3 separate regions of the Homo sapiens genome follow, and regions 2 and 3 are each linked to region 1. The links come from fine-mapping of genetic effects on gene expression. A gene starts in region 1. Each other region holds a variant in brackets. All regions are shown on one strand. Distances are from middle to middle.

Region 1 (6,619 bases):
TCTCTCTAGTTGCAAGTGACACAGGTATCTTCAATCCCTGTGGCCTCCCGGGTTGCAACCACTTCAACTCCTTCTCTTTACCAACATGAATGCTCCACAAAGCAGGTGTTGCAATTGCTTCCAGAGGGTCTGGACCACAATAGGTGATTAATAAGTGCTAGCTGAATGGATGGTGGGTGGGTGAATGATGCAATGCTCATACATATTTTAGAGCACACATCACAATGCACACATTTACATACAGCACTCCATGTGAGTCTAAGACCATGAATTTGGTAGTGATTATTGTTTCTTCTTTTTTTTCTTTTTTTTTTTTTCAGATGGAGTCTCGTTCCCATCACCTAGGTTGGAGTGTAGTGGCACGATCTCGGCTCACTGCAACCTCCACCTCCCAGGTGCAAGCGATTCTCCTTCCTCAGCCTCCCGAGTAGCTGGGATTACAGGCGTGCACCACCACACCTGGCTAATTTTTTTTTGTATTTTTAGTAGAGATAGGGTTTTACCATGTTGGCCAGGCTGGTCTCAAACTCCCGACCTCAGGTGATCCACCTGCCTCGGCCTCCCAAAGTGCTGGGATTACAGGCGTGAGCCAATTGTGCCCGGCCTAAGTTTCCTCTTTCTAAAATGTGGCTTGTCTTTCTCAATTTCAGAAACTTGCCCAAAGCATGTAGCTCTAAGCAGTACCCTGTCAACTTCAAGATAATGGCCCACAAGACTACATTACCCTCCAGCTTGTCTTTTCTTGATAGCTGTTTGAGGACAGCATTGATTAGGCCTATTAGAACATGACTGAAGTGTTGCCCCATTCTGGTTTCCTGTTATGAATCTGACATTTCTGAAAAGTCACTGGTTACAGACTAGATCAAGGAAGGAGACTACTCAAATAATTAACTGTGACACAGAATATCCAGATAAACACCATGTAAGAATTTACAGATTCTATTTCCCTGTCCACACACAGGAGAGTCCTCAGCTCACTATCTCATTCACAGGTTAATAAGAACAGGTGATGACTCAGAATTCGCTTCTAATCTTAGTTTTCTGAGCCTTTAAGCACACATACATCAGAAAAAAACAGCGTCAGGAGGACTGAACAGAAAGCCAGAAGACAGATTTCCAGTTCCGCCCAAACTGATCCTCTAATGCAGGTACACAGAAGCTGGGGGAAGTCATTTCGGTGTGAAGAGAAAAGCACTCTAAAGTGCTACCCAATGTTTACTAAGCAGAGGACATGCCTACTACACATTCTTCTGCTTTGCCCAGAAATGCAAACTAAAAAGAACCCTTTGTATAGGTAATCAGACCCACAACCACAGTATGATACCCAGACCAATTCTGAAAAGAACAAGCGTCCTTCAAGGGTCAAATAAGCATTAGTAGCTCCATTCTAGCCAACCAAAGAAAGATAAGGCTAACCATTTTAAAGGTGTTTTTTTAACACTGAGCCATTTCCAACAGATTTGCCTGGCTGCTCTGGGGAGTCAGGCCTCCCTCAGCTCAGGTGAAGCCTCTACCCTTTCCCCTCTCTCTAAATTCTTCTCACTTTTTACCGGGAAGAGCAGCACATCTCAATACATGCAACTGTGCAGCAGCGCATCACTCTGTCACACTGAATCAAGGGGAGTGAACTCAAGGCAGTGAGTAGCTCATGTGCACAATGAAAGTTTTAAAAATTATTAGGCAGTCTATCCTTAATCCCAACTGCTGATAAAAGGAGATATATATCAAAGTCTGTTTTCCTAACCTGCGGAGAATTCAAGTGAGCTGTTTCCGCTCCAGGTCGAAGTCTGGTGACACTCATCAACCCTCAGCAGAGAGCATCCAGGGAATTCAGGACCTTGGTTTTATCGCTAAGGGTGTAGCCACTAGTGCTATTAACAGCAGCACTCTGGGTCCTCACAGAGAGGGCCCCCCTCCTTTACCAGGATCTCCCAACTCTGCAGAGAAAAGCTGGGAATAGGGTCCAGGGCTAAGGCTATTCCCCAGATTTAAAGGAAGCTGTACACGATTTTAAAGCCTCACCTTACCTCAGCTAACAGAGAGGCAGGGGGCGGAGGGCGGAGGACCCACCAACCCAGGGGAATTGTAAGGAGACAAAGATGACCCCAAACGCACAAGCGCGCGCGCACTGAAGCCCGGACTGCAAAGCACATTCCATCAACCTTTCACTGTAATCGGCTTACTGTGGGGTTTATCCCCTCACCCCATCCCTCTCCAGAAAGTTTAAGGCTGTTCGCACCGACTTTGAAAGGTCCATTGTTCCCTTCCCCGTAAACGTAATGAAAAGAGAGAGTGGAGAGAAAGAAATCAAGACACCGTTCCCGAGGACCCTTTCTTAAGAAGAGAGGACTGACTCCTGGGGAGTCGGGTCAGTCCCAATCCAGAGATGAAACCGGGAAAGGAGGCGCACGGGGGAAGGGCGGGAGGACGTTTTCCTTTTCGGCAGAAATGCCCAACGCCGGAGCCGGCCAGGCCGCCGGGAGCAGAAAAGGTGGGCGAGACCCGGGTCTGCGTCCCCGCAGTGGCCCCCGAGGGCAGCAAACGAGGTGGAGCGGGGTGGGGGGGCGGGTGACCGAGTCGCTTCTTACCTTCCCCTACCCCGCTTAGCGTCCGTTAACTCAGGTGCCTACACAGCGGTCCAGGGAGACGGAGAGGAGTCCCTGGCGTCCTCGGGTCCAGATCTCCTCTCCATGGCCAGGAAGCCACTCGATTGCCGGCGCCCGCAGCTGCCGCTCGTACTCAACTGGCAGCCGCAGCCTCTGCCTGGAGGTGAAATACTCTCCTCCCGAGAGTGACGCGCACTTCCCTCCGCCTCCGCCTCCTCCTCCTCCTCCTCCTCCTGCCCCGAGCCTCGGGGGCAGGGGCCTCGGCTCGCTCTCTCCCGGAGCCGCCGCTCGGCTTTCTCCGTTCCTTCCCCTCCGGGAGAAAGAGGAGGAGAATCGTGGCCCGGGCGGCGCGGGCCTGAGCGTCCCCGCGACAACAGGGGAGGAGGCGGCGGCGCGGGGCAGAGTGGGGTCCCAGGAGTCGCTCTTGTCCCTGGTCGGCGGGCGCCGCGGCTTGCTAGGGTCGCGCTCAGCCTCCGCCGGCCAGACAAGCAGCCCGGCTCGGCTGGGCCGGGAACTGTGGATTGGGCGGGCGGGCGGGCGGGCGGTGGAGAGCGAGGGAGGCGGAGGGAGAGGAGGAGCCTGCCATCAGAGGAGGCGGTGGCCCCGCCCGGCCCCTCCCGCCGGCCCCGCTCCCCGCGAGCTGCGAAAGCGGAGGCTCAGCGCCACTCGCTGCCGCGCGCTGGAACAGCGCCCGAGCGCACTGCCGGCGGGGCAGAGCCCCAGCCAGCGCCCCCCGCTGCGGCTGCAGGCTCCTACCCTTCCTGGGCGCGCACACCCGCCTGGCCGAACCGGAGCCTGTGCCTCCAGCACCCCCAGATAAGGCTGGTACTGCGCCTGTCACTCCCTGGCTGAGCCTGACACTGCGCCCCCAAAGTCCCCTGGCTGAGCGTGACTGCACCCCATCAACCCTCGGCTGCGTCAGACTTTGAGCCCCATCACCCGTAAAGAGATTTCCACACTCCCACAAATGTTCTGAGCGTCCAGTCACAGCCCCTACCTGGCCAGGCGCGAGCGCCAGGTTCTCAGCGCTGTCAGAAGAACCAGCCTGCTCTGGGACACAGGGCAGCTCTTCTGGTCCCTTGGAGCAACCCCAGCATCCCGCTCGCAGGCCGGAATAAATATACTTAGGTCTTCCCACGCCCCCTACCTGCGCCACTCTGGAGTGGCGGCCGCTTGCAGAGGTGGCGCCGAAAGCCACGCCCCGGCCCACCCCAGTGCCAAAACGCCGCTCTGAGGACACCGGCACCGGCCCTGAAGCAGCCCTGCCGCCGCCACCCTGCCCCCTCGCTGGAGCTGCTCTCACAGCCTTGGCTCTGGGTGAGGGCGCGGCCCGGGCTGGATCACTCAGACGCACGAGGTCCCGAGCTAGTGACAGCTGCAGGACTGCCAAATCCGGGCCGTCGTCATCCTCGATTTAATTGGAATTGGAAGTTTTCCCTCCAGGAAACTCTTTCAGTGAATAATATACAAGGTAGGATAGTTTAGTTTTCAGGGTTGTTCATTCCTCCTCCCTCAACAAACTCAGTCCTGTAACCGCGACACACCCGGCAGTGAAGGGGAATCCCCTATTTCAAGGGTATTAGTTCAGGACTTTGTATAAGAAATTACTGTTTCCAAATCTTGGCTGATGATAAGAATCCCCTGGGGCACTTAGAAAAAATTGGATTGCCAGACGTCGCGCAATCTACTGAATCAGAGGTATCGGGAATATGTAAGTTTGGGAAACAGGGCTAGAATGCATCCTCTAATTAATTAAAGCCTTGGAAAGATGCCTCCAAAACAGCAGCGCGAGCTAGTGCTGAGATCTTACAGAAACTTCACCCAGCTGCCTTTGAGAGCCGCTGTCCCTTCTGGGATAGGCAGGGAGGAAAGGTTTTTAAAATAAGGAACATAGTTTTGAATAACAAGATGGAAGGGACAAAAGACTGTTTTCATGGTCCAAAGGTGTTTTGGATTGTGCTTAATAAAGATAGAAACTGTGTCACCCGTGTGCTAGGCTGAAAAATGTTCCCTCCCCAGAGATAACAGGTTCTAAGTCCTGGAACTTGTGCATATTACCTTACATAGACAGAAGCAGGGCCTTCGCATATGTGATTCAATTAAGGGTCTTCTTGAGTTGGGGAGATTATTCTGGATGATCAAGATGGGTCCTAACTGCAGTCACATGTACTTTTATAAGGGGAAAGGGGGTGGTTAGCACACACAGAGGAGGGCTGGCCACTGTGGAGGCAGAGATTGAAGCGATGCCTCCACAAGGCAAGGAATGCCAGCACAGAGGCAAGGATTCTCCCCTAGAAACTCTGAAGTGAGCAAGATCCTGCTGACACCTTGATTTTGGCCCAGTGAAACTGAGCGCAGTCTCCTGCTTCCAGAAGTGTGAAAGAATAAACTTCAGTTGTAAGCTACACTGAGTTTGGGTGATATGTTGCAGCATAGGAGGCCTGTGCTGGGCCAACTTTATATTACAAATATCCATTTTTTGAATCCTTATTAAGTGCCAGGCACTTTGCTTGGAGTTAGGATATGTTATGGGATATGTTGTCTAATTAAATCCTCCCACTAATTATTATTTCCGTTTTAAAGATGGGACAGTAGGACTTGAAAATTTAAAGGGTCTTCCCAAGGCCACACAGTAAGAACCTCTTGGAATCAAGTCTGCAAACCACTCAAATGTTAAAAATAGCAATTAGGCCAGGCGCGGTGGCTCACGCCTGTAATCCCAGCACTTTGGGAGGCTAAGGAAGGTGGATCACAAGATCAGAAGATAGAGACCATCCTGGCTAACATGGTGAAACCCCATCTCTACTAAAAAAAAACACACAAAAAATTAGCCAGGTGTGGTGGCAGGCGCCTGTAGTCCCAGCTACTCGGGAGGCTGAGGCAGGAGAATGCCGTAAACCCGGGAGGTGGAGCTTGCAGTGAGCCAAGATCGAGCCACTGCACTCCAGCCTGGGCTACAGAGCGAGACTTCATCTCAAAAAAACAAAACAAAACAAAACAAGCAATTAAAAATTTATATACATTAGTCTAATAAAATTTTTGGTTTTAAAAAGGACTTATTTATTTCCACAATCTGTATTTATTGCCCAAACCAAGGGAAATGGATGTTGATTGATAGTGGAGTGGGCTAGTGGGGAACAGGGGTGTAGGAGACCTCTTTACACTTGCGCTCAATTTTGTTGTGAACCTAAAATTGCTCTAAAATATAGTCTGTTAACTAAAAAAAAAAGGGTAGGGGGATTGAATCTGTGTGTGGCCTATCTTTGAGAATTGTATAAACTTTTGTTTTTAGATATTTATCTGGAACATAAAAAATCAAAGGAAAGGCCGGGCACGGTGGCTTAAGCCTGTAATCCCAGCACTTTGGGAGGCCAAGGCAGGCGGATCACCTGAGGTCAGGAGTTCAAGACCAGCCTGGCCAGCATGGTGAAACCCCACCTCTACTAAAAATACAAAAATTAGCCGGGCATGGTGGCACGCACCTGTAGTCCCAGCTACTCGGGAGGCTGAGGCGGGAGAATTGCTTGAACCTGGGAGGCAGACGTTGAAGTGAGCCAAGACCTCATCATTGCACTCCAGACTGGGCAAAAGAGGGAGACTCCGTCTCAAAAAAAAAAAAAATCAAAGGAAACTGATGTGAAAGGAAGCTATGAAGGAAACCAACAAAGTAAGAGGACACAGACTTCTCTGATCAATGGGACTGATGTCACAGATTGAGTTCTCAGGGAAGCAGGCTCTGAGACACTGACAAGATGTTTCACCTGTGGGGGACAGGCAGGAAGCAGCATGGGCAAAGGGAGTAGCTGGGGTGTACCCAATGGCCTTCATTGATCCCACTGGGGGATCTGAGAGATGGCCCATTGGAATTATTGAGCCTAAATGACTGGACCATTAGATACCCTCCTGAATCAGTCATTGGATGTCGTTCATCCTGGGACGTGACATGACCTTGGTCAAGGCGACCCTGCAGCTGAGGCAGTCTCCAAAAGGGCCAGTTGCTGACAGCACCCAGA
Region 2 (10,836 bases), 24 kb before region 1:
CCAGAAGATTGTTTCTAGACTAGAGAATGGTCTATTCTAGTTTCAGCACCCCCAACTCAGCTTTGTTCTAAAACAAGCTTGTCCAACTCACAGCCCGTGGGCCACATGTGGCCCAGGACAGCTTTGAATGCAGCCCAACACAAATTCATAAACTTTCTTAAAACATTATGAGATTTTTTTTTTAGCCCATCAGCTATTATTAGTGTTACTGTATTTTATGCGTGGCCCAAGACAATTCTTCTTCCAATGTGGTCTAGGGAAGCCAAAAGATTGGAGACCCCTGTTCTAAAAGATTACTGGATTTTGTTCTAAAAGATTAAGCACAGTAGGAAAACTAAGTTTCAACTTCAACTAGTTGAGAAATCTAACCAGGCGGACTGTCATTTGAACATAATACTATTCTTAGAAAAAAAAAATCTGTCATAATACTTATCAGTGTCTTACAAGAGTATAAACTCTACTTGCCTACCTTCAATCCATTCACTATAAGCTGTCACAGAGAACTTCTGGCCATCCACAGTATAAAATTCTCTTTGGGCAAGAGCCTTCCCGCCACTGCTATGATTTTCATAGTTTCTCACGGATTCATTGCAAGAAGTGCTTCCACCATCAATGACACCAACTAAAGCCCAAGCTTGCCTAGAAGGAAAAAGAGCATGTGCATTTGATTACTTGTCATGGTATTCACAAAATCCCTGACAAAGATGTTATTACAGAGTGCTGTTTAATTCTCATATTTCATTTTCGTCAATCCCTAATGTTTTTTCTATATGAGGCTGCAGTTCCAAACCTTGACTGCACCTAGTTCTCCTAGAAGGAAATGCAGCTACTTTTTAAATACTTGTTTGTCCAGCTCTGTAATAGGTGAAAGACCGATGACTACAATTTCAATTAATCATTGACTTACTTCCTCAATACACATCCATATCACACATAACATTCTGGCCAAAATCCATTTACTTTCTCTTAAAATGATTATCACATGCTCTCTTTTAAACTTTCTATTAATACAATGTTCTCAAAAATCTAATTGCATAATAGAATTACCCAGGGAGTTTGAAAAATATATCAATGCACAGACCCCATCCCAGATAAAGGGAATCATGTTAATAATTGCAAAAGGTTGGGTACAGCATTTGTAGTTTGCAATAATTTATTTTTATTTTTTGGAGACAGGGTCTTACTATGTTTTTAAAGTTCCCAGGTGACTGGAACATGCAGTTAGGCTTAAAAACCACTGATTTGGGCAGTGGTTCTCAAACTTCAGTACGCATCAGGATCAACAGAAGAAAGGAAGGGCATGCTGAATTAGATTGCTGGCCCCACTCTCTCAGTTTCTGAGATGGGACCAGAGAATTTGTATTTCTAACAGGTTACCACATTATGTTAATGCTGCTGGTCAGGGCACCATACTTTGAAAACCCCTAAATTATAGACTAGAGGTTAGAGTAGTGATCATCAACCTTCAGTAGCCTGGGAGTCTTATCCTTCTTTTATCCTTCTTCCTGACATAATTGATCTAAGGTGCACCCTAGGTGTCAAGATTTTTTAAAGTCTCCAGGTGTGCAGGCAAGGTTGAGAACTGAGTTAGATTTTTTTTTTTTTTTTTTTTTTTTTTTTGAGATGGAGTTTCGCTCTTGTTACCCAGGCTGGAGTACAATGGCGCAATCTCGGCTCACCGCAACCTCCTGCCTCCCAGGTTCAAGCAATTCTCCCACCTCAGCCTCCCGAGTAGCTGGGATTATAGGCATGTGCCACCACGCCCGGCCAATTTTGTACTTTTAGTAGAGATGGGGTTTCTCCATGTTGGTCAGGCTGGTCTTAAACTCCCCATCTCAGGTGATCAGCCTGCCTCGGCCTCCCAAAGTGCTGGGATTACAGGTGTGAGCCACCGCAGCCAGCAGAGATTTCTTAACGTTCCTAAATTAAATCAAAGCTGTAGAATCACTATCCAACAGATTTTAAATTTTATATACTATATGTCTATTTGTTGACAGCAATGTGTTTGAAAACACCATTATTTCTTTTTCTTTTCTGGTTTTTTTTTTTTTTTTTTTTTTTTGAGACAGAGTCTCACTCTTGTCGCCTAGGCTAGAGTGCAATGGCGTGATCTCGGCTCACCACAACCTCCACCTCTGGGGTTCAAGCGATTCTCCTGCCTTAGCCTCCCAAGTAGCTGGGATTACGGGTGCCCACCACCACACCCAGCTAATTTTTGTATTTTTAATTTTTAGTAGAGACAGGGTTTCACCATGTTGGCCAAGCTGGTCTCGCACTCCTGCCCTCAGGTGATCTGACCTCCTTGGCCTCCTAAAGTGCTTGGATTACAGGCATGAGCCACCACACCCGGCCTAAAAACATTTCTGATACTAAATATCTGAGAGACATGCTCAAACTTGTGACCAAAAGCAATCAACGCAAAGGGACAATTTTTAAAAACCAGAAAATCTGCTTTAAGACTCCTGGTTTAAAACACGAAAAGAAAAATGTCAACTTCCCACTCTAGAAAAAAAATAACAAATGTAATCTGTGTCTGACAGATGGCTAGATATTCACAGATAAAAGTTAACCGAAGCATGCCTACACCCTTACAAATTCCACAGCCGCCCCTGTATGGATTAGCTACTCTTTGGACGACAATGCTTTGTAGCTTGTTTTATACCACTTGATAAAGCAGAAAGAATCAAATAAAGAATGTCTCAATATATTATCTCCTATTTGGAGAAGAAAAGAGAGGAAGAATTATCACAGGCTTCCTTTCTTTACCAGAACTGCCTCAGCAACTATAAAACAATGTTCTTTCTCTTCTATCGACATTATCTCCAAAACACTCCTACTTCCCTCCTCCACTTGAGGGAAAATTTCAGCGCACCAGAACATTATCTTCAAAGGCCTATGTGTTTATGTACATTGGAGATAACGTCAATGCAATGGAACGCTGGCAAAAGATCACAACTCTAAGTTCTCTATGAAATCAAGAGCAATATTTTAAAAGGAATTTAGAAACCAGTAGGGAGAGGAACCTAAGAAAGTCAAAATGGTCACAGCTAATGATCATGCAAAACTAGAAACAATAGTAGCATGAAGAAATACAAGTTGTAATCCCTGGCATTACTGGATAATGAAACAAAGTAGGTATCTAACTTAGAAAAGATCATGCTTCCACTCCTAGGTTTATATATTATAGAAATACATGCACATGTACATTAAGAGATGGATCAAGGAACATTTAAGGAAGCAATTTTGTAACAGGTCCAAACTGGAAAGCCACTCAGATGGCCACCAATAAATAAACTGTGGTATATTCATACGACAGAAAATAAACAGCAAAGAAAATGAGCCTCGGCCGGGCACATGGCTTATGCCTGTAATCGCAGCAATTTGGGAGGCTGAGATGGGAGGATCACTTGAGGCCAGGAGTTTGAGACCAGCCTGGTCAATAGAGTGAGACCCCCATCTCTATTTAAAATTAAAAAAGAAAAGAAAAGAAAATGAGCCAGCACTACATGCAACAATATGAATAGCATTCAATAACATAACACTGTGCAAAGAAGCCGGACACAAAATATAACATTGTCGGCTTCCATTTATATAAAGTTGAAAAACAGGCAAACCTAAACTTTAGTAGATCCCACAGATTCAGGAGCATGGCTCCCTTCGGTGGGGAAGAGAGTGATTAATGCATAGCAGAGGGGAGGAAGGGAACTTCTGGGCTGCTGGCAATGTCCTATTTCTTGACCTGGGTGGTGGCTACACAGGCATCACATTGCGGCAACTTATTAAGCTCTACATTGTTATTTTTGGCACTTTTTTGCATGTGTATCATATTTCAAAAACAAAAACCAGAAAGAAAAAAAAACCCTTTGAGGTTTTGCACATGGAATTCCCTTGGTCTGAAAAAGCTTTCTTCTCCACTGTCTACACAGCACGCTCCCGAACTTCTTTCAAGTCTCTTGCCTTTGGGGAGCCTGTACTGATTCACTAGGCCAATTGAGAGGCTCCTTCTGTTAATACTCACGCTCCCATTGCACCCTGTAACTGCAGCATGTCTCACTGTATGATCATCATCTATTTAGGTCTCTGTTTATCCACTAGATTAACCATGGGCTCTGAGACAGTGTCCTTTCGTCTAAGCATCCATGGGTATCCAGCACTTAGCATCTCCTAAATATCCCCTACATGAATAAAAGCCATTTCTAAAATGTTACAGACTGTTTTTCTTCACTATTTTTTGTCTTTCTAGCCTGTTCTAGAATTGCTGTAGGTAATACCCCATTCCAACAACCTACTATCAAAGGAAAAAATAGTAACTAGATCATTACGGCATGTCGGTTTTGAGGTACTCTTACTTTTTCCACCACAGATATTCCCTGACTTTACTAAAAGCATTCAGCAGAATTAAAAGCTTCTGTCTTTTAAATGAAATGTTAGGTCGGCTACTTCCCCTAGACTCAGAACTGCGTTAGGAAATCACAGTTAATTAGAATATGGCACAAGAAGGCTGGGTGTGGTGGTTCATGCCTATGAAGCCGATGTTTTGGGAGGGTGAGGCAGGAGGATCACTTGAGCACAGAAGTTTAGACCAGCCTGGGCAACAAAGTGAGACCCCCTCAACTACAAAAAGTTTAAAAATTAGACAGGTGTGGTAGCAACTGTTTGTAGTCTCAGCTACTTGGGAGGCTGAGGTGGAAGTATCACTGGAGCCTGGGAGGTTGAGGCTGCAGTGAGATACGATTGTACCACTGCACTCCAGCTCGGGCAACGGGGCAAGACCCTGTCACTAAAAATAAAAATAAAAGGAATAGGGTACAAGAACCATAAATAGCAGAAATGAATTCTACTATCTGGATGAATTTCCTAGCCCTTTAACTTTTTCCTTCCTCATATATGCCAGGGGTCCATAGACCTGTGCCAATCAAACATGCAGATTCCAATCAGCCTGCAAAGGAGTCCGAAAAAAGAAAAAGAAAAAGAAAAACTGCATATTCTACCCCCTCAGCCTTTTAAGACAGGTTTAGAACTTAGCATGAAATTCTGCCCTAACCTTTAAACTCATTAAGTTGCCTCAATTAGCCTGAGTTTCATATGATCTTCAGAAGGTAACGAAAGGAAGAAGTATCTTCAGAGGCAAATTGTCCTTAAACTGCCTGACTGTTTTTCAGTACCACACTTCTGCTCTCAACTTTTCACAAGTCTGGCACTCCAGTTCACAAAGGGCTTTGTAAACCAAAGCCAATGAAAATAGCTTTTGTATGTGGTGTCCTATCCTCCAGCCCCATGTCTCAAAGCTACCAGACATGCAAATGGTAGAGTGGCCCTTCTGATGCCTGAGTCATGCTGTGGCTGTGGCTCCTTTCCCCACCCTCACTCTCCTCTCACACAGACACGGACTCTGATAGGGATCTGGGAAGAAGGTATGCCTACCTGTAGCCCAGTCCTTGGATCAGTTCACTTCCCAACCGTTCCTGGATCATCTGGATGGTTCCTTGTAAGAGACTTTTAGCGGCTGAATCCCCGACAGCTATGGCAACAATCCGACCTGGATCCTGGAATCTCAGAAACTCCTGAAGCCGCCTGCTCTCATTGCGGTATTCATGGGTATCAAATCTCTCACTTTCCAAAATTTTGGCCGTGTCTTGGTCAATGACCCTCACATTGAGGCCCCGGGAAAAGTCCTTTTCAAAGGTATAGGACCCAAAGGGCAAGCCTGAGGAATTCAGGGTCCTTGCCAACAACGTCCACGATGCCTTCCGTGCCCCATGTAACTCCAGTGTCCCGCCAGCTTCCACACCAATAAACTTTTTGCCAAATGTTGGCATACTTTCACCTTCATCTGACTTGCCATACAAGGTAATTGTCGCTTTGGATTTATAGCGGCATTTTTC[T/C]GCTCCAATATGAAGCGCCCCACCATCCTGGATCAGGATGTAATGAGTCCTCAAAGTAATATTTCTGGATCCATCTTTATTGTCCCCAAATACAAGCAGTCCTGCAGGGAACACCACCCTGTAAGCCAACTTCTAAATCATCTTTCTGAGATACAAGGAAATAGATTTCACCTTAAGTTAAATACACTTCCGCAATTAGGTCGGAAAAAAGAATTCGCTAAGAATCTGCTTAGAAAACTAAAGGGAAAAATGAAGAGTTCATATCTTAATATACTCTCAATGCCCATGACTGTGAATTTCAACCTACTCACTTTAGAGGTTAAATCATTTCTCTTAAAAATATCTAAGAGTCTACAAATCTGAATCTTATTTTTGTATATGTTTACTCATGTTAACTCTCAGAATTGTGACAAAATCACTCTCAGAATTGTGACAAAAATTTAGCTCTGAGAGATCACCTCTCTGGAACTGTTTCCTTGTCTATAAATCAGGGGTCTTGATTTGAGTGATACCTAAGGTCTAAGCTCTTAAATTCTATGTTTTTTATCTCTGGATAAATTCTCTGGTTTTATCTCATGATCTTTCCAAATCTCCATGGTTAGAGTGACACCACAAACTAAAGCCTATTCTGCCTAAAAATAGTCTTCTACATAAGGAACATCAAATATCCCCCACATTAAAGAGCAACCTTGCAGTTCCCATAGGCAGGAACCATTACCTACCTCCATCCTGAATGACTATAGAATGCACGGTGGCGTCTGAGGTCAGACGGAGCATATCTCCCTCCTTGATAACAACTTGCTTTGCAGAATCTTGTCCTGGATCCCAATTCCTGAGACGAGGATTTTGATCTGGGCAATTTTCTATAAACACATTGATATTCCATCCAACCCATTAAAATGCAGGAATAATATAGCCGAATCTAAGCACTACCATTATTTACTGCAGATCTGCAAAAAATGTGCTAACATATGTTGATTTCCTGCCATTAGAATGGAAATCCCACGCCTTCCCACCAGCAGAGAACCATCTTACCCTTTAATTTGTCATCACATTTCCATTTTAAAGTTTTACCACAAAACTAAATTGCTAGCATCTAGTTCAGGACAAACTTCACCAAAAAAAAAAAAAAAAAAAAAAAGTTTCCCTGAATCATCTACTCTGGAAATAAACCAATAGTAAGAGGCAAAATTATACATTCTCTTGGGATTCACACTAGAAAGCTGTTTTAGAAAAGAAATGTGTTCACAACATCCTGGTAAATCAAAAATGAAAATTGCTAAATAATACATTGATCAGGTCTTCACAAGTTCCTTCTTGCACACAGTGAATGATGAAGTAAGTACTGATAGCACCTCTCTCCAAGACTGAGAAACATCACTATCTTCAGCCATGTGCACTCTCCCAACAAAATGAAAGAGGCAAGTGGCTAAAGACATAACTTCTCATTTTCAGAGATGAGGAAATTACAGGTTAGAGAAACCAAAGATTACTTAGCAAGCTGAGTGATACGCAAGTTTCCCCTTTTAGAAAATGAGATTATTGACTTGTAGTGTTCCTTTACTGGAATTAGAACTTGCCTCTTGAATAGGTATTATAATAACAAAAATATAACAGTATTTAATTAAAATAGCCATAGCTATTTAATGTATGAAAACTTTAAGGTCCGCCATAATTTTGAAGAGGGGAGAAAAAAAATCACGCCTTCAATTTTGATCAACCTATGGCCAAGTATTTGTGGAGCATCAATTTATCCACTCTGTACCAGATATTTTAAAATTTATAAAGCATAGAATCAGCTCACATTTCCTCAGAGTTTATATGCAAGCTTTGGAGGGAAAAAACACCAAGTATGAAATAATGAAACACTGAACAATATGGTAGTCAGTCGAGGTTCAAAAGACCTCAGGCAAAGGAGGCATGGGGCTGGAGTAACTGAGGCAGCTTCATGAACAGGTGACTTGAGAGCTGGACACCAAAGGATGGGCAGTATTTAAATAAGAGGATCATGAGAACACTAGTAATGCAATTATCCCTTGAGATCCAAGTAGTCCATTTGGTTGTTCAGAATTCCAAGGTGGCTTTATTTAAACTCAGCTAAGGTAAGAATAAGCAAGATATGCTTGAAAAACCATAGGAAGAAATTCCTTTCATTAAGGTGGCAGGTACATGTTTAGGAATAACAAGAGAAAAAGTAGAGAGGTAGGGTGCTACACAAACATATTGTTCTATACAGAAAAAAAAATGATTCCTCATTTTGAACTTGCATAACACTAATGCAAACATCTTCCTGTTTCTGAGCTCTCACAATGCCCTAGGTTTATGCTTTCTCTTATTAACCACAGCTACAATTAGCCTCACCAGTTATATCCTTGGCAATTATTTCATGGAATTAGTTTTTCTCACAGCAGTATCATAACTGTTGATATTTAATGCTTCTGATAAGTCAATGAGTATCACTATTATACTAAAAACAATCTTTAAGCTTTTCTTCCCATCAAAGAAACAAAAAAACTCTTAAATTTGTTTTGCCTTAATAATGAGGATTCCTTAACTTTTCTACCTCCCTCTTCCCATACAACATCTAGCTGAAATTCTCCATAGTTTTATAACAAGCACTGTACCCAGCTATAAAGAAGGAAATCCAGTCTTTTGAGATCTGGAGCCTACTTCAATGATTATATAATTTCTCTTAATTGTTTTTAATTATTTCCCAGGAGAGCATGGTTCATTAGAACCATCACCAAAAATTCCAGTCTGTTTCCTTCCAGTAAAATGCACTTAATGAGAAAATGTGTAGTCTGTACAAAGCACTGAAAAGTAGCTCAGCCAACCCCACCTTCCCAGCTACCCACTTGAAGAGCAGTGAGTATATTATCAAAGTTATGTAACAGCAATAACCACAGTCAAGCTGACCCTGAAATATTTCAGCATACCAGATCTTTCCACTGATGATCTGCACTTTACACTGCCAAAATGTGAAACTAAAGAATGTTGGTTCAAGGAACCATATCAGCAATGCCCTGTTTTAGATGGAATATGAAAACACCAATCAAAGCCATAGACTTCAGCTCTGATTTCCCACTGGTCTAGCATCCCTTTACTGCAGAAGAGTTGGGAAGTATGAATCAGCACAGTGAACTTGGTTATTATGAATCAGCACAGAGAACTTGGTTATTCTGCTGGGAAAAGGAGAGAGGAAGTCATACCGCATGCAATGGAAATCAATGTTATAAGTTCATAATGTGGTCTACTTGTTTGGTCCATAAGGATATTAATGTGCATGTCTCTCTCATTTGAGGTTTATTTTCTTAGAAGTACTAGCACTACCTCTCCCAGAACCTTAAAATTTTAAAAATCCCTTGAAAGCACCCAAGAAAACTAAATAATAAAGTATTTGTAAGTCTTATAAGTAGTAAAATGCCTCTGAACTGTTACAGCCACTTAAGGAAGCATTTAACTTGACAAAAATCTGTTGTAGACAAATATGGTACCCAGTCCAGGCTGTTAGAGTCTTCTCTCTTCACAGCCCCGAGTCCTTTGATTTTAGACAGATGGATGGTATTCTTTTATGAGGCAATTCTTTGTTGGTATTCCAATAAGGCTGACTTGCAACCATCTTCTTCAAAACTTTTCAAAATATTGATATATCATTAACTTGAAAAGAAAATACCATTTAAGAAATTAAAATCTCCCTGCATAATATTTAACTATGAAGTAATGACTGATTTTTAGACAAAGGTGTCAGAACTTATATATCCTAAAGGATGCTTCCCTTCCAGGATATATATTGTTACTCAAAAATATTTGAAACTTTTCCTTTGGAACTGCTTCCCAAGCCCATTTCAAGCCACAAACACAAATATTATTATTTTTAGTCACTTACTTAAACAAAAAAATCTAATATAGTTCACTATACGTATGACTAAAAAAAAAAAAACTTGCGGCCGGGCATGGTGGCTCACACCTGTAATCCCAGCACTTTGGGAGGCCAAGACAGGCAGATCACCTGAGGTCAGGAGTTCGAGACCAGCCTGGCCAACATGGTGAAACCCTGTCTCTACTAAAAATACAAAAATTAGCCAGATGTGGTGGCACTTGCCTGTAGTCCCAGCTACTCAGGAGGCTGAGGCATGAGAATCATTTGAACCCAGGGGGCGGAGGTTACAGTGAGCCAAGAACACACCACTGCACTCCAGCCAGGACAACAGAGCAAGACTGCCTCAAAAAAAGAAAAAAAGAAAAAAAAAATTGCAGCAGTCCAAAAATCATACCTACCATAAGAATTTAGTGAAGGCCCTCAAAGCATTTCCAAAAGAGGTACTCCAAGACCTCCCTGAGTGCTGCAACAAAGTGGCACAATGGACAGGAAGAGCAACCATTTAATCATTTCCAACAGATTATTGAACAATTGCTCTCATTCATAAGAAGTGACACCTCGTATTACCTAACTACATATTAGTTAGCTAGGGCCAACTTAAGATAAATTTTTTTTTAAGTATTCTACTATTTCCTCCTCTTTTGTCTTCTAGAATATGTTCTATGTGCATATACACACACTTACCATCTGGAGCATATTTTGAGGATATTCCTAAAATGATTGCAAGTGCAATAAAAAATGAGAAACTAGTAATAGCAAAACAAATGAAAGTATTTTTGTGTCTCTTTTGCTTTTGACTTTCTCTCTGGGCTTGCTGTTCTTCAGGTGAGAATGCGAAGGTTGCCCGGTCTTCTCGTCTGATGGAGGTAAATTTGGCTGAAGCTTGACTCTTTGGAGGAGGAGGGGGACGCAATGGGACAACCTTCCCTGGAACATAGCCAGATGGGTGACGACTATTTCCATTCTGAGGTTGGAGGAAAGCAGGGGAGTGTCCCCTGGAATCAGTGGCATACATGATACACTGTTACTGTGAAAAGAAAAAAAAATTAAGCTTCAGTATGTGTAAATTCT
Region 3 (10,836 bases), 85 kb before region 1:
AGAGGTGTGACTAAGCAGAAATGGGGCACAGAAACACGGGAAGGTTTGTTGTCAAAGGCACTCATTTTCCAAGTCCTTCAACTCAGCTCAGCTTGTTATATGAACCTTAGCTCTAAACCATTTCACTACATGTTAGCATTTTTTCCTACTTGATAGGAAGGAAAAGTGAAATTGTGTGTGGTTAAAAAACTGAGAGATAGTGGGCTGGGTGCGGTGGCTCACGCCTGTAATCCCAGCACTTTGAGAGGCCGAGGTGGGCAGATTACCTAAGGTCAGGAGTTCAAGACCAGCCTGGCCAACTAGAAACCCCGTCTCCAGTAAAAATACAAAAATTAGCCGGGCGTGTAGCACATACCTGTAATCCCAGCTACTCAGGAGGCTGAGGCAGAAGAGTTACTTGAGCCTGAGAGACAGAGGTTGCAGTGAGCCGAGATCGTGCCACTGCACTCCAGCCTAGCCGACAGAGCGAGACTCTGTCTCAAAAAAAAAAAAAAAACCTGAGAGATAGTTAGAAATGAGATGCTTCTGATCCCTGTTAGTTTATGGTACAGAGGGGTTAGAATAGACAAATTATTAACTGAACTAAAGTTTCCTCTCACAAGAATGAAGAGCTAAAAACTATACATACTAGCAGCAGAACAGGGTAAAGCCACATGTTTTCCACGTTTGTTTGTTTTCCACATTTCATAGCTCCAGTCTGTACACAGCTGATTTGTTGAGTTATGGTGCTAGGGCAACTAAGAGCATGAATGCAAACCTCGTGATGTTCAAACCAAGTCAGTAAATGGGTATTGCCTGGCCTGAGGTCTCATTTTCTAGATACAAGTAACAGCAACAGAGTGTGTCGAAACTAGGGCAGGGTTTGCATCAGGTATCCTCAGTGGTTCCCAAAACTGGCATAATCTTAGAAGTTTGTTTTTTAAAAATCCACATTCCCTAATCCTTAACCCTCAAGACAACAACAACAAAAACACTACTAAATTAGAATTCACAGGAGTCTAGAAATCTAATTTTTTAGAAAACAAACCATCACGTGTTTCTGATGACCAGCCATGTTCAGGAGCCACAGCTGTTCTCATTTAATCCCCCCTGTAATTTCACAAAAGTTACTAATGGATCCACTTTATAGATGAGAAACCTGAGGCTCAGGAGGAAGCTGCTCCTAGGACCACCGCTAAGTAGAGAGCCTTAGCGGAATCAAACCTAGATTGGTCAGCAAAACAACCATACCTACAGCAAGTAACTGTATCAGACACTTTACCCTGACTCCACTTCACTTCCTCTAAGAACTATTTTACTTAAAAAACAACTGACTGCATGCACTCTTGAAAGAGTCAACAAGTTTTGTCATCTTTCTCTCCCATCGGAATTCTCTCATTCTCCTACCCATAGTGGGAGCTAAGGATGTTTCTTGCCTCCTAAGACTTGGAAGTCTTGCGTTCTCCCACATCAGAAACCTACCTGACCCAGGCGCTCCTCCCTCAGGAACTGGATGTTGACAATCAACATGGGCTGATGGGAGAAGGTGAACCTCCCACACCCACCCTCTTCCCTGGCAAGGGTCAATCTCATTATCCACTACTCAGCCACCTCCTGCAGCCCTCCATAAAGTTCATGCATTAAAAGGTTTTTGCTTACAAAGCAAACTGCTTGTATGAAATGATTCATTCTACCTCACAAAAAAATACATCTGAAATTATCAATCAGAGCTTCAATAAATGTAAAATTAGTAAAAAGGGTGGATAGTTTCATCAAAAAGCAAATAAACTTATGTTTTTGTTAGTCTGTGCAGCCTAATTGTGGCCAAATGTACATTTTCCTTCAAAATCCTTAAAATAATAAAACAAACTTGCAGAAAATAAAGAATGGCTGGGATTTCAGAGTAGGAATAACTGTAGCCAAAGGAATCATTGTAGTGGTATTTCAGGCATCATGGCGGGAGGACTTAATCACGGGCTCCAAACCTTTGCCCCAGTAACAGCCACATACTCTGCCCAATATGAAATCTGCCCTAGTCAGAAAAAGTTCTAGGGAAGACTGTGTAGATAGAATCATTAAGGTTAAAAAAAATCAATTTTGTTCAGATGTGTTCTCTGTTGAAGGGAAAGAGGGAAAGGAAGAACAGCCTCACTACATGCTATGAGATGGTCAAACTTTAGTGTTCACAAGAAACATCTGGAAAGCTTGTTATAACATAATATTCCCAGCTTCACAACTCCTGGAAACGCCAGTTCTCCTGTCTGAGCTGGGGCTTGGGATCCTGCATTTTCATCAAGCACCTCAGGCGATTCTGATGCAGGTTTCTTCCTTAAGTTGCTATTTAAAAAATTCTGACAATGTGGTAAGGTTCCAAGAACAGGACAATGAACGCTGGTCTACACTACACTGAGATCAAAGGTTGGTAAACTTTTTCAGTAAAGGGCCTAACAGTACATATTTTTGGACTGACAGTCTCTGTAGCAACTACTCATTTCTACCCCTGCAGCAGGAATTGCCCACAGTTAATAAGTATACAAGAATGAGCTTGGCTGTGTTCCAATAAGATTTGATTTATGGACACTGAAATTTAAATGTCATAGAATTTTCACCACATAAAATATTACTCTTCTTTTTCTTTCTTTTGTTATATTTAAAAACATAAAAATGATTCCTAGCTCAGAATTGCAGGCAGAGGTTTGCCAACTCGGATTTTTCAATTGTGATCATGAAGCCAGCTTTTCTATGGATGAACTTTAAAACTTAATTTTTCATATTTAGACTAATTATTTTGTCCCTCTTAGGAAAATTACAAAAACACATCTATAAAGATGTTTTCTGGTCCACCCTTTGCTGTATTTTCAGATATAACATGTTCACAGCTTGCTATGGCTGATAATTTTGGATGTCCTGTGGGGCACAGTTCCTCATTTAGAAATCACAGTTCAGTCAGTCATTCTCTAAATTTACCACATAAAAATAAAAAGTGTGCGTGCCCTTATCCACAACACCAGGGCCTACTGAAGCATCCTTTTATTAGTTTTTTTCTCAAATTGAAGATAAATAAGGGAAAAACAAAAAAACCTTTTCTCTTCCAAATGACTCAAATGGTCTAGCAAGTCTGTGAACAGCATTTTGCCATTTGTGAGCAAGGAACCAGGAATGGAGTTCCTTTATTTTTTTTCCCTCCATGACCTTTTGTTGAAAACTAGCTTAAATAGTGTCTGCTCACATTTCCAGCACACTGGGTTATAACAGTAATAATGTAATCATAACTAACAGTAATGATACAAATCTGCTGCCCTATTAAAGGTCTTTACCTCCAGGGGAATTTCTCAGGTTATTAAACATTGTTTAATAAGTATCTGGAAACCAAATAAGAATTCCAGAAGTAAGCTCCAACTCTGCATGATGAAATTAACAAACATTGTCATCATTGAATCTATGTATTGTGTTTATCTACTAGGAACAACAGAAAAAAACACTTGAACTAACTAAGCTCATTCCTTCTTACTGAAATGCTTCTCAACCAGACACATCCAAACATGACCTCATCTCTTAAGGAATGAAAACCTACTGTAGTTATCTAAAGCACTCAAGCCTCGATCTGTCACTTCATTACCTTCCCCTCCTCAAGACAAAGTAACCCACTTTAATGGCATGAGGATGTGTTGTCTCTTGATGAAGTTAGAGAACAGAGGAGTCATAAATCCTCTCTTCCCATCCCCGAGTCTAAACATCAGCTTAGAGGCTGCTTTGCAGTCATAGTCCATGAGATGGTGCGTCTGCCTTTCATCTTCTTGCCAGCACTCTCTTCCAGCCTCTGAAGATAATATATGGCATGCTGACTCAGGTGGAGAGGCAGGAATCACAGCAAAGACTTAAACCCTAGTCTGTGGATACATGAGAGCCCTCTGTGTTGCTCGTCAGCTGGCTGATTTGTGGACGACCACATTTTTGGAGCTCAACCAACTGCCTCACCTGATGGAAAATGCTTATGAACTTATAAATCACCTTTGAATATATTTTCTTGGTAGAAATAGAACAGATTGCTAGCTCCCAATTCCCTGAAATGTATATATCAGTGTATAGAACCAATTTAATGATTTGAGAGGACTGAGGACTAAAAACTGTATTAAAAGCTTCTATTAAAAAGAGACAATAGAGAAATGCTTTGTTTAGGGCTGGGAGTTTTGTGAGTAATATAGGAAATGCAAATAAAAATAATAGGTAAATGCAATTTTGTTTTAGTCACAAAAAAATTACAGACTGGAGTTAAACAGTGGGCCTATTATATTAGTGCCGTGGTTCCGAAACCTGGCTGCATATTAGAATCATCCAGGGAGCTTTAAAAAAAATTCCAGTGCTCAGGCTGCACCCAACACCAATTAAATCTGAATCTGGGGGGAAGGGAGTAAAGTCCAGGCCTCTATATTTTTTTTTAAAGCTCCTCAGGTAATTCCAGTGTGCAGCCAAGATGGAGAACCTCTGCCTTGGAGAATACAGTCCCTGCCCTTCTGAAGCTTACTCTTACAATATTTACTTGGTGGATTCTGTCCACCAAGTGTCTTCCTCACTTCCGTCAGTAACTTCTTTACAGCTGGAATCTGGAATTTTAAATTTATAGATAGAGATATAAATTCACATACAGGCCAGGCGCGGTGGCTCATGCCTGTAATGCTAGCACTTTGGGAGGCCAAAGCAGGAGTATCACTTGAGGTCAGGAGTTCAAGACCAGCCTGGCCAACACGGTGAAACCCCACTTCTACTAAAAATACAAAAATTAGCAGTGCATGGTGGCGGGTGCCTGTAATCCCAGCTACTTGGGAGGCTGAGGCAGGAGAATCACTTGAACCTGGGAGGTGGAGGTTGCAGCGAGCTGAGACTGCATCACCTCACTCCAGCCTGGGTGACAGAGCGAGACTCCATCTCAAAAATAATAACAATAATAATAAAATAAA[TAATA/T]AATAAATTCACATACACACATATATAAAATACATGCACACATATTTTTATTTAACTTAGGCCCTGATTATTAGTATATAAAACAGAAAAACCAAGTGCCTTGGTAATTTACATATCTTCTCCAAATCTTTAAAGAACCAAGCTCTAAAAAACACACGTAAAGATATTTAAGTCATAAAACACACACACACACACACACACACACACACACTCTAATGACCTTCAGGAACCATAATCCAATAATATATTTAATAGGTAAGATCTCATTCATCAATATACAAAAAAAAAAAACAAACCAGAAAACAAAAAACTAACTTTGATTAAGACATGTGCCCTTAGTAAGGGCACTTACAATTAGAAAGGTTTATCGGTAGCACTTTGAGGTAGCATATTTTGTAAAGTCACAGGGCTGCTCTGCAGTTTCTCCTGGATACAAAGGTAGAGGCCATCAGCCTTTGCCCCTAGAAGAGGAAAGTGAAATTATCTGTACTCATTGCCAGTGTCAGCCTGAACACACTTTCTACCACCCACCCTTGGCCATCCCTCCTCTACACTTTATGCGTCGGGGGTTTAGAACAACGTAAAGGCATTTTGCTGCTTCTTTCCTCTTGGTACGGCAGCATCCCAGGCTGTGGAGCCAGTTGCCTCTTGCCGCATGTGATTCACCAGCAGGAGACGCATGCACCCTGTGGAAAGGGAAGCTGGGCATCACAGCATGCTTTTTAATTGGCTTTAACATTTCATTAAGTAAGAGTGACTCATTCCTGCAAGGCTTTAAAGAGGTTCATTTCTGAGTATTCTCTCCACGATTCTGACCCTAGAAAGCGCTCCTTTTTTTCCTCCCTGGGTGTAATCATTTTGGGGTATCATTAAGCTTTCTGGGATTTTCCTGGCAGGAGGGTGAACAGAAAAGCTTTAAAAAATCCACACAAAACAATAACAAAAAACCCAAGTGCAAGAGCAATACCAAGAACAGACTTCCTTTGTGCAAGTTAAAATGATACAAGTTTACGGTTCAGGAAAACAACCTACTTCTTAAAACAAAACAAAACAAAACAAAAAAGGAAATATTCAGTTGAGCTCTGCATTTTAAACACAAATATACAGTCAAAAGAGGCTAAGGATTAAAGCTGCAAAAATGGTCCCAACAGCCTCAGACTTTTGCTGCAGGAAAATTTTTTGCCCAATGGTCACAGATTAAAGGGATATCTAATCCCCAAGAGCCCTTTTGTCCCAATATACTTCCTGTTTGAAAGTTTAACCCTTACAAGTAATTGATATATAAGTGAATAAAAATAGCACATGTCCAGGCAAAAAAGGGCATGAGCTGGGCCTGAGTTGCCACTTAAAACTGTCATTCAATATCATAGAAAATCCTCAAAGGCTGCCCAGAAACAGGGCCCCAGGCACTGCTGAACATGCCAGCCACCAAGTCAACTGCCACCCGACCCAACTGAGCATTAAACTTCAAGTATCCAAGGTGCTACAATAGCTGGTCCTCTAAAGACCTCAGGCTGACTCTCAGAAGCCCCCACTCCACCCCACCCCATTATACAAAAAGTAAAAACATTGCTCATGGTCATTACAAAATACGGGGGTGGAAAGTGAGGAATAAGAGATCTGCTCTCTGAATACACCAGCCTTACAAATACAAACAACGTCTTTAACATTTTGTACAACTAGAAGGTGCATGAAGCTGGTATCCAAGCAATAATTTCAAACGCTTTCTTTTCTCCCCATTCTGTATCAAACTGGAAAATGGTTCCGTTGGGTTAACAGTGTCATTTTAAAATGCCATAAATTAAATAAGTTAGTTCACATTTTTTTTCCCCCAGCACTTAAGTTACAGTTAGTCTCTAATGTGCTTTTGAAGCTTGCTTTAGCAGTTCCAGGTCTCTTCTGCGGACAGTGGTGGCTCTGGGACAACCATATTCGTCCAGCTGCAAAGGTATGAATTGTTCAAGCACCCCAAGGCCCTGTCCAGCAGGACTGGTAAATAGCTTAGTCCATGATGGTTTAAAGTTTCCACTGAATCCCAAAAATATGGTACTCCCTAAAAAAAAAAAAAAAAAAGAAAAAGAAAAAAAATCAATTTTTATAGCTACATTCCAGCAAGAGAATATAGGAGGTGAGTCGGAGGTGAGCAAAACAAAGGCAGCTATTAAAAAACTCTGCACTTCCTTACATCAGCAAATGAACTCTCACCACCCACCTTTTGCCCCAGATAACAAACCACATCCCAACACACTTCCTCTCACATTGTGCCCTTATTTAGAAATCATCTTAATGATACCCACTCCAGCAAACAAGCTCATGAAAATGGTCTGGTAGCTGAATTGCACCATAAAATTACCTATGTTGCTGGCCCTGTAAGAACTTCATGAAATAATACAAATACAAACCTTTGTCATAAAGATGAGCTGGTTTGGCTAATCCCAGAGGTACTAGTAAGTGTGAAATGTTTAACTGCTTTATTTCTCCTCTTGTGCTCAACAGAACAATGGACCTGTATGTGAAATTTAGAAAGTCAGAGCCAATTTCAATCCTTCAGCATGAGTATCTTTCTACTGAGTATCTTTCTGAACTGACTGCTGAATAGAAATATTAGATAAAAGCAGAACTCCAAAAAGAAAAAAGTCTAGATGATTTTCCATCCAATTCCCACTCTTCCACCCCACCACCATGGGCTTCACACGTTGCTCTTACAAGGGGTAACGCATACATAAACCAAATCATTTACGTACGTTCACCTAGTGCAGGGCTTCCCAACCCCTGGGCCATGGATGGGTACCAGTAGATTAGGAACCAAGTTGCACAGCAGGAGGTGAGCAGGCGAGCGAAGCTTCATCTGTATTTACAGCCACCCCACAACACTTGCATTACAGCCTGAGCTCCGCCTCCTGTCAGGTCAGCTGTGGCATTCAACTCTCATAGGAGCAGAACCCTATTGGGAACTGCACATGTGAGGGATCTAGGTTGTGTGCTCCTGAGAATCTAATGCCCAATGATCTGTTGATCATCACCCCCAGATGGGACCATCTAGTTGCAGGAAAACAAGCTCAGGGCTCCCACTGACTTTACATTATGGTGAGCTGTGTAATTATTTCATTATATATTGCAATGTAATAATAATAGAAAAAAAGTGCACAGTAAATGTAATGTGCTTCAATCATCCTGAAACCATCCCCCTTCACCTCCAGTCCATGGAAAAATTATCTTCCATGAAACCAGTCCCTGATGTCAAAAAGGCTGGGGACTGCTGACCTAGTGGATGGTCTGGGGCACAGCTCTTTTAGGGAATAGTCTATTGTTGTTGTTGTTGTTTATAATTTGTATAAATTTGTGAGGCACAAGTGCAATTTCATTACATACATAGGATTGCATAGTGGTGAAGTCAGGGCACTTAGGGTATCCATCACCCAAATAATGTACACTGTGCCTATTCAGTAATTTCCTGTCATCCACCCCTCACCCTTCCTTCTCCATTGTCTATCAGGGAGTAAGTCTACTGTAACATGGGAGAATGGTTTTGTTTTGTTTCAAATACTCTATTTATTTAAGTTCTATTATCTATTTATTAAATAAATGGATAAACACAATTCTAAAAATAAATAAACGACTAAATGTGTTTTCCATGGTTTGAATTACCATTTTTGTCACATAGTAAGCCAACATACATACTTGGACCTATCTGTGGATTCTCCGTTCTTCTCTGATCTTGCTCTTCTCTGCCAAAACTATGCTGGCCTATGGCTTCACGGTCCATTTTAATATTTGATAAAAACAAGCCCTTGTATTACTGTAATTTGTTTATATTTTACTACTTTCTCATTTATTCTTCCAGATGAACTACAGTATCAACTGTCAAGTACAGTAGAAAAGTACCTTTTGGGACACTAATGGAAATGTGTCAAATTTATATTTTAACTAAGTAAATGTAATGCACTTGAATCATCCTGAAACCATCCCCCTCCACCTCCAGTCCATGGAAAAATTATCTTCCATGAAACTGGTCCATGAAATTAACATTTATTAATTTTCCATTCAGAAACAGAGTCTCTCCTTTTATTCAACTTCTGTTGCATATCCTTTAGCAATATATTTAATAATGTATTTATTTTCTGTGTGTGTGTGTGTGTGTGTGTGTGTGTGTGTACACATACAAACTCACTCTTTCAAAAACTTTAATCAGAAATGTTCTTGGCCAGCCGGGTGCAGTGGCTCATGCCTTTAATTTCAGCACTTTGGAAGGCTGAGATGAGAGGATCATTTGAGCCCAGGAGTTCAAGACCAGCCTGGGAAACACAGCAAAACTCCATCTCCACAAAAAATTAGAAAAATAATAAAATTAAAAACAAAAACAAAAACAAAAAATAACCAGCCAGGCTGGTGGTGTGCACGTGTAGTCCCAGCTACTTGGAAGGCTGAAGTAGGAGGGTCACTTGAGCCTGAGAGGTCAAGACTACATTGAGCTGTGGACACATCACTGCACTCCAGCCTGGGCAACTATTTTTGTTTTCTTTTGTTTTTTTAGAGATAGGGTCCTTGCTCTGTCACCCCAGCTGGAATGCAGTGATGCAAGTATAGTTTACTGCAGCCTCAAACTCTTGGGCTCAAGGGATCTTCCTGTCCTAGCCTCCTCAGTAGGTGAGACTACAGGTATGTGCCCACATACCCAGATAATTTTTAAATTTTTCATAGAGACAGGGTCTCATTACATTGCCCAGGCTAGTCTTGAACTCCCGGCCTCAAGCAATCGTCCCGCCATGGCCTCCCAAAGTGCTGGGATTATAGGCATGAGCCACTGTGCCTGAACTCTTGGCCGGTATTACTGAAACAAAAATTTTCAAGAACAAATCAGTGTTTAGGGGGCTCTGAGTAGCTCTTATTAATTAAAAGGTAACATTAGATTGATTTATTTTCAGAGTCATCAAGGATACCTACAGGAAGTTGAAATTTGTGTGGTATGTCTTAATGTGGGTCTCGATGGTTCTTAAGATTAAGTACCTTAAGTTTCATGCTGGTATGGGTTCTTTATGGTAGTCTTTCTTTCTTTCTTTTTTTTTTAGAGACAGAGTCGCGCTCTGTTGCTCAGGCTGGAGTTCAGTGGTACAATCTTGGCTCACTGCAAACTGCCTCCTAGGTTCAAGCAGTTCTCCTGCCTCAGCCTCCCGAGTAGCTGGGATTATAGGTGCCACCAACATGCCGGCTAGTTTTTTGTATTTTTAGTAGAGATGAGGTTTCACCATGTTGGCCAGGCTGGTCTCGAACTCCTGACCTCAGGTGATCCTCCTGCCTCAGACTCCCAAAGTGCTAGGATTACAGGTGTGAGCCACCGTGCCTGGCCTACTGTAGTCTTTCTAAAGCAGTGGTGACACAATCTAAAATTAGTGCAGCAGTCTAAGCACGGCTACCCTGCAGACCTGACCTTCTTCAATAGGTCAGAATTACCCATAAGATCATTTACAGGTCACCCCGCAACCCTATACACATAGACACGTGCTCAGTCTCCCTAGAAGTCACTGCCAGTTGCTCCATACCTTCTTAACACTTTGTTAAAATGTTACACACACACTGAATTTTTGCAAACGAAACCTATCTGCATAACCAGAGGCAGATCAAGAAACAGCATTACCAGTATCTTAAAAGCCTTTCTGTTAATGAGTTGGTTTTACCTCTTAAATCTATGGGGTACCTTGCAGGACTACCATGTTGTCCTAAATACTTGTGGTGAGATTTATGTCCTGGATTGTTTTAGGGGAAGTGAGTGCATGTATTTTCAACATTAGGAAAAATCTTTAAATCCTGCAAGAAAATTGAGGCTGTACAAGTGTCTTAAGCCAGAAGACAGAACGACATATATACATTTAATGTTACATCCAAATAATCCAGTGA

What was found.
Region 2: its variant is fine-mapped to the expression of CEMIP2 in whole blood (TOPMed, PIP above 0.99).
Region 3: its variant is fine-mapped to the expression of CEMIP2 in whole blood (TOPMed, PIP above 0.99).

Annotation. Positions count from the first base shown.
Region 1 is chr9:71,765,769-71,772,387 of GRCh38, forward strand. It overlaps CEMIP2 (cell migration inducing hyaluronidase 2), which reads right to left and starts at 2,745. Exons shown (of 24, transcript NM_013390.3): 1 at 2,589-2,745. RefSeq lists enhancers at 2,403-3,084, 3,085-3,766 and a silencer at 2,840-3,509.
Region 2 is chr9:71,739,594-71,750,429 of GRCh38, forward strand. CEMIP2 (cell migration inducing hyaluronidase 2) reads right to left here. Exons shown (of 24, transcript NM_013390.3): 2 at 10,450-10,792; 3 at 6,608-6,748; 4 at 5,425-5,986; 5 at 470-639. The coding sequence starts at 10,780. Among named protein-coding and RNA genes, the nearest start is that of CEMIP2, 24 kb to the right of the region's middle. RefSeq lists an enhancer at 4,241-5,105. The variant T/C (reference allele first, on the strand shown) is at 5,886.
Region 3 is chr9:71,678,400-71,689,235 of GRCh38, forward strand. It overlaps CEMIP2 (cell migration inducing hyaluronidase 2), which reads right to left. Exons shown (of 24, transcript NM_013390.3): 23 at 7,344-7,447; 24 at 4,967-6,994. The coding sequence ends at 6,798. Among named protein-coding and RNA genes, the nearest start is that of CEMIP2, 85 kb to the right of the region's middle. The variant TAATA/T (reference allele first, on the strand shown) is at 4,938.